Regions from separate parts of the Homo sapiens genome. Here region 2 is linked to region 1. The links come from fine-mapping of genetic effects on gene expression. A gene starts in region 1. The other region holds a variant in brackets. All regions are shown on one strand. Distances are from middle to middle.

Region 1 (2,766 bases):
CAGCCCTTCCAAGAAAGGCGCTGGGGTTTGCCCCCTCTGTACCTTGCTTATTTCAATCACATTTGTGAAACTCAATAAGAACGCCAGAATTTCTCAACAGGAAGAGTCTAGACTGAAAAATTCGCCTTGAAACTACATTTCTGCAGCAAGAACAGGGGGTTTGTATTTAGATATGTTCTTTTGAGGCAGCTTAGGAGAAGGTCCCGTGCAGCTGATGGGTATTATAAGGATGTCTACCGCCCTCCTGCCTGGCCACTGGCTGACTTCTGAATATTAGATATTTCCCAGTAGCTTAAAGAAACCAAACAAACTGAAGTGCCCCCAGCGTCCGTGAGGAAGGGGTGTTCTTGGATGGGCATAAGATAACCAAGGGCCCTGCCTCCCCCACCCACTGCCAGGCATCTCCCACTTCCAAGCCACAGAGGCGTGCTGTTCAGGACCCCCAGGGACAGCAGGGACAACAGGCGGGGGATATGGGGGAGGGGTGGGTAAGGAACCGACCCACTAAATCCCAGCTCCAGCTACTAATTTGACAGAGGCGTGACAGCGTGTTTCCCCCAGAACCAGCCGCATTCCCCAAGCCCAGCCCGAAATCTCCTCCCGAGGCTGAATCAGAGACCGCGGCGGATCCCCCAGGAACGTCGAAGTAATTCCAGCTGTTTTCCCCCGTGGAGGGCAGGAGCGGCCAGCACCAGAGGCAGGGGAGGGGAGGAAAGCGGGGGAGGGTGGGCGGAGGCGAAAATGACGCCACTCCTAGCTCCAGCCAGCTCAAGGGGCCGCCAAATGTCCGCGAGACCCCTCTCGCCCAGGTCACTTCTCCCACGCCGCCGATGCGCCAATCCCGGGTTCCTCCGGGGGCGCACCCTGCCCAGTGGCGCTCGCAGACACTTGCTCCGGCTCGCGTGTTGCACTGTGACACACCCTGGACCCTCCCCCCACACACACGCTTACACTCACACATGCACACCGCCCTGTGTGTGCTACGGGACTGAAGCGCCACCAGCCTCTCGGATCCACACCCGTTCCCGACCCAGTCTGCAAGCCAGACACACCCACGCCCCCCTCTCCAGCCTCCTTGCCAGCGCCACTCACCTCTACCAACCCCTCATCTACACACTCGCGCGCAATCTCTCCGTTCCCAGACACAGACACACACACACACACACACACACACACACACACACACTCACCTAGTCCCTTCTGCACCCACGTCCAGCGCGCACCCCTGCCAGCGGCGCCAGCTGGGATTCGGAGACGACGCCAGGAAACGCTATCCTGGTATTTTTTCGGACCGTCTCATCGCCCCCTTCCCGACCTCCAGAACCCCAATCCCCAGCTAGGGGGGAGATGAATGGGACCCTGTCTTTTTTTCCTCCCTTTCCGTAATTGAACCCCCCACTTCAGCGGTGTCTGCACCCAAAGCCCCCTCGCGCCCGCGCCCCGGGGTGACCGCGCACTTGCAGCTCCGGGGCGCTTACTCCTGGAGTACGCGGGGCTACAAAGGGCGGTCCTGGCGCTCCAGCGGCACCGCACGGGCGGCCCCTTTCTGCTCCGCGTCGCGCCTGGGAGAAGAGGGCGCGGGCTTACCTAACGCGAGGGAGAAAGGAAAGGACGGTGCCGAGGCTGGCGGCCCAGCGCCCCGCGGAAGCCGAGGGCGGATGGTGAACTGACGAGCTTCAGCACCAGCTGGGAGCCAGGCGAGGTTTGTTTACGTCCGGGCGGAGGGCGACTTTATAGGCGCCGCGGCCCCGCCCCCGCGCCTCGCCCCTCCCAGACCCTCGCAGTCCCAGCACGCAGCCGGGACACACCCCTTCCCCGCTCCCTGCTCCCTCCTCCCGGGCGCGCCGGGCTGGGCTGGGCTCCGGCAGCGCGCGGCGGGCGCCCACTGGAGCCGCCGCCTGTTGCGCAAGCAGTCGTAGGGGCGCGGCCGGGAGGGGCATCGGGGCCCGGGTTGTGGGTCGGCTCTGCAGTCCCCTCCGAGTCCAGGGCCTCGGCCTGTGCAGCGGGCGCGTGTGCCCTGCCCGGAGGAGGCGTTTGTGTGCTTGTGCGTGTTCATGTGCGCGCTCGTGCGTGTGCATGTGGACTTCCTTGTGTCTCCGTATGGGCGGAGGCCCCCCATCTCTGCCTCAGAGTTTCTTCTAAGAGTCTCGTTGCGCCACGCCCTGAGCGACTCCCTTCACTTCCTGTAGGTCTCACCAGCTCGGCTCTCCAGCCGGATTCGGCTGCCTGCCCAGCAGCCGCCTTCGCTTTCGCCCGACAGGCTCCCTCCGATTCTCAGCCTTCCGTGTCGCCAAAGCTCTCGCTGAAATCCTCGCTCCCGTTTAATCTCGTCCATCTTGCCCACCGCCGCCCAGCGCTTACCCTTCCCCTCATCTTCCCAGTTCTAAGCACACTCACTGGACCTTGCCCACTGGGCTCTTCTCTCCTGCCCCACAAGCCCAGATGAGAGGATTCTCACCCCTTCCTATTCTGATTTCCTGAACTTTCATGACTCACCCTTTCCAACCTTAGCACCGTCCTGCTCTGCTGCTCTGTTTGTGCGTAACTATTGGCCTGCATGTTCCCATCTGGCCAAAGAAACCAGCAATTCTCAACCCCTACTGCATATGAGAAGTCCCAGAGGAGCCGCCAAATTAAAAAATAAATAAATAGATAGATAATAAAAAGAGAGAGATGGACTCCAGAACAGTTTAATCAGAATCTCAGGGGGTGCAAACCAACTGGGCATTGGGGTTTTTACAAAGCTACCCAGGTGGCTCCTGACGT
Region 2 (2,766 bases), 32 kb before region 1:
AATGGAATATTATTATTCAATAAAGGAATAAAGGAAATACAAATATTAATGCATGGCCTGGATAAACCTTGAAAGCACTAAGAAAGAAGCCAGTTACCAAAAAAAAATCACATATTATTTGATTCAATGTATACAAAATTCCAGAACAGGCAAATTCACAGAAAAGGAAAGTCAATGAAGGGTCAGTCATCTGAGGGTGGGGTGACAGATAAAAGGTACAGGATTTTTTGGAAGGATGAAAATGTTCCAAAATTGTGCTGATCGTTGCACAATTCTGTGAAAAGACTGAAAACCATATGCGTGCATTAATATAGAAGTCACTGCCACAGATAGCAAACAGCTTCCTGTGTTCCCAGCGCCTCCGGGCACACAGACAACTCCGTGCCCACATGCAGCGCATTTCTGGCTTTTCCAGGCTGTGGCAAGAGTTCTTCCCAGAACAGCCCCAGGAAGTCCCAGGCAAAAAGAAACCACCAGCTCCCGGCCATCAGCCCTTCTCGGCTGCCTTTTTCCGCCACTCTCTTGGGAACCGGCTGACAGGGAATCAGAGCTCCTCAGAACTTACGGTTCATGCCGATGTCATGGTAGGTGAGGATGACAGGCCGGTTTCCCTTGGGAGTCCCACACAGCGTGACGTGAACAGAGCCATGTAAAGTCTCGATGTCCTGCTCCTGAGGAGACACAGCAGACAGTGGGCTGGTCATGTGGGGTTCATGGCATCCGCGTGGCTGAAGACAGCCAGCCTGTTTCCAACTGTGTTTTGAGGAAGCTCTCTTCTCATCTGGCCATAAGAGCCCCGGCTTCGGGCAGCAGCTCTCTCTGGCCAGAAGCCACTCCAAGGACCAGGGCTAGGAGGGGACTCCCAGGAGGCAGGGGACAGAGGCCTGGCTCAGACTGCGCTGTTAAATGCACCAAATGCTGGGGAAAGGGCTTGCCCGCCACCATCTCTGCCCCGGACTGTTTGCTCCATCTGGAAAACAGGCCATCAAGCCTGCGCTTCCTTGCTTCCTTGCCCTCAGGCCCCACTGGCCCCACAGGTTACTGTACCTGTGACTAACATCTGCTGGCTTGGGGCTACACAGAATTCACTCCCCACTTCCAAGAACAGCCCTCAGTTTCCTTCAGGAACCCACCCAACCCTCACCCTCAGTCCTAAGTGTTCTGTTGACAGTGACCCCCCTCCCCACGTTTCACAAGTCAAGGCCAATTCATGCACTCCACCTCCCAGTTGCAAGGACTGGATCAGGAAAGAACACATGGGTTGGCTCAGGCCAACTAAAGCCAGCTGCACTTATTTCTAGTAATTGGGGAACTGGATCGGACTTGATGGAGCAAGGTTGGGAGGGCTGGATCTGTAGCAGCCACATTGTCACCGTGAGGCAAGGGCCTGCCTGAAAGTATGGCCAGCCCAGGGATGGAAAAGAGTGAAAGACGGTTTGGGGATGGCATCCACCACCTGGGATTTTCAGTTACACGGCCCACCAACTTCCAATCCCATGTAAGCCATGTTGAGTTGACCAAAAGATTCTGAATGATACCATGCCCATCCTCCCTCCTGCCCTTCCTTCTTGTTGAGCCAGATGGTTCT[C/T]TGGGTCAAGGCCAACTCTCCAGCTCGGCCAGTGACCCCCAGCCAGCTTACTCCCAGTCATCCCTGCACCTCTCCGCACCAAACCTTCCTAACAGCTGAAGACCTGCTCACCTTTCTTCCTCTGGAAAACAAAAAAAAAAGGCACCCTGCCTTGGTTCCAAGCACCCCAGCTCACTCATGGACCAATCTGTCACCTGCCATGTTCATCTAAACTCCTGCAGAGGGTGGTCGTGACTCTTTCTCAATTGTCACTTCCACTCACCCTTCACCCCATGCCTACCCTGGGCTTCCGCCCTCCTCAAGGTCAACCAGAAGTTCCCGAGGACCCCAGTCACTCATCTCCCTTGAGCAATTTCCACATCTGAGAGCAGTGACCTCCCCTTTGAAGTGCCCCACTCTGGGCTCTGCTCCCACAGGGCAGTTGGGGAGCAGGAGGCAAGGCCATCAGGCTGCTGAGACCTGCCAGGTGTCAAGGCAGTGCTGAACCATGTCCCTCCATGTCCTCACCCTCACAGGAGCCCTGCCAGAGCCATGTGACCCAGCTGGCTGAGGAAGTGAAGTCAGTATCCCAGAGTCACACGGGCAGGCAGCACAGAGGCAGGTCCCCCAGACAATCAGCCTCCGCGGGGCCCCAGGCTTCTCAGCACTTGACCCGCCCGCAAGCGGCGCACACTCAGGCCTCACGAGGCCACCTCAGCTCAGCACGCTGCATTGATTTTCCAAAGATTAAATGAGGCAGTGAAGTGGAACACAGAACACTCTAAATGCTGTTGAACCTGCTTCTAGAAGCTGGCAGAAATGCGACCCATACAGATCACTGCCGTGTGGCAGCAGAGAGGAAGGTCAGCGTTCACAAACTCACGCTTGAGAAGAAGGGATGGGACAGATCACCACTTAGGCACCCTGTGGGGGCAAGTCACCTCCTCCCCAGCTTGAATCTTTAAAACAGGAACAGCCTGGCCCTTCCTACCTCCTAGAGGTGCTGAAGGCCCAGAGAATGTAGGCTGCTCCATCTGTGAGTGACCCCCCGTGAAGTGGTACGAGGCAGCCACCCCCACGCCATCCACACCCGCTGGTGATCGGATTCCACCTCTGCTACTTCTTACCCCTGATACTTAAGGCAGTTCAATTTCATCTGAGAAACATTCATTAGGCACCTATTGTATGCCAGGTCCCCT

Evidence for each region. PIP is the estimated chance that this variant, and not a neighbour inherited with it, causes the effect.
Region 2: its variant is the best candidate, but not a certain one, in a credible set for the expression of NDRG1 in blood mononuclear cells (TOPMed, PIP 0.70).

The regions. Positions count from the first base shown.
Region 1 is chr8:133,295,547-133,298,312 of GRCh38, forward strand. It overlaps NDRG1 (N-myc downstream regulated 1), which reads right to left and starts at 1,706. Exons shown (of 16, transcript NM_006096.4): 1 at 1,588-1,706. RefSeq lists a silencer at 1,587-2,036.
Region 2 is chr8:133,263,982-133,266,747 of GRCh38, forward strand. NDRG1 (N-myc downstream regulated 1) reads right to left here. Exons shown (of 16, transcript NM_006096.4): 4 at 566-671. Among named protein-coding and RNA genes, the nearest start is that of NDRG1, 32 kb to the right of the region's middle. RefSeq lists an enhancer at 1,682-2,182 and a silencer at 1,785-2,079. The variant C/T (reference allele first, on the strand shown) is at 1,589.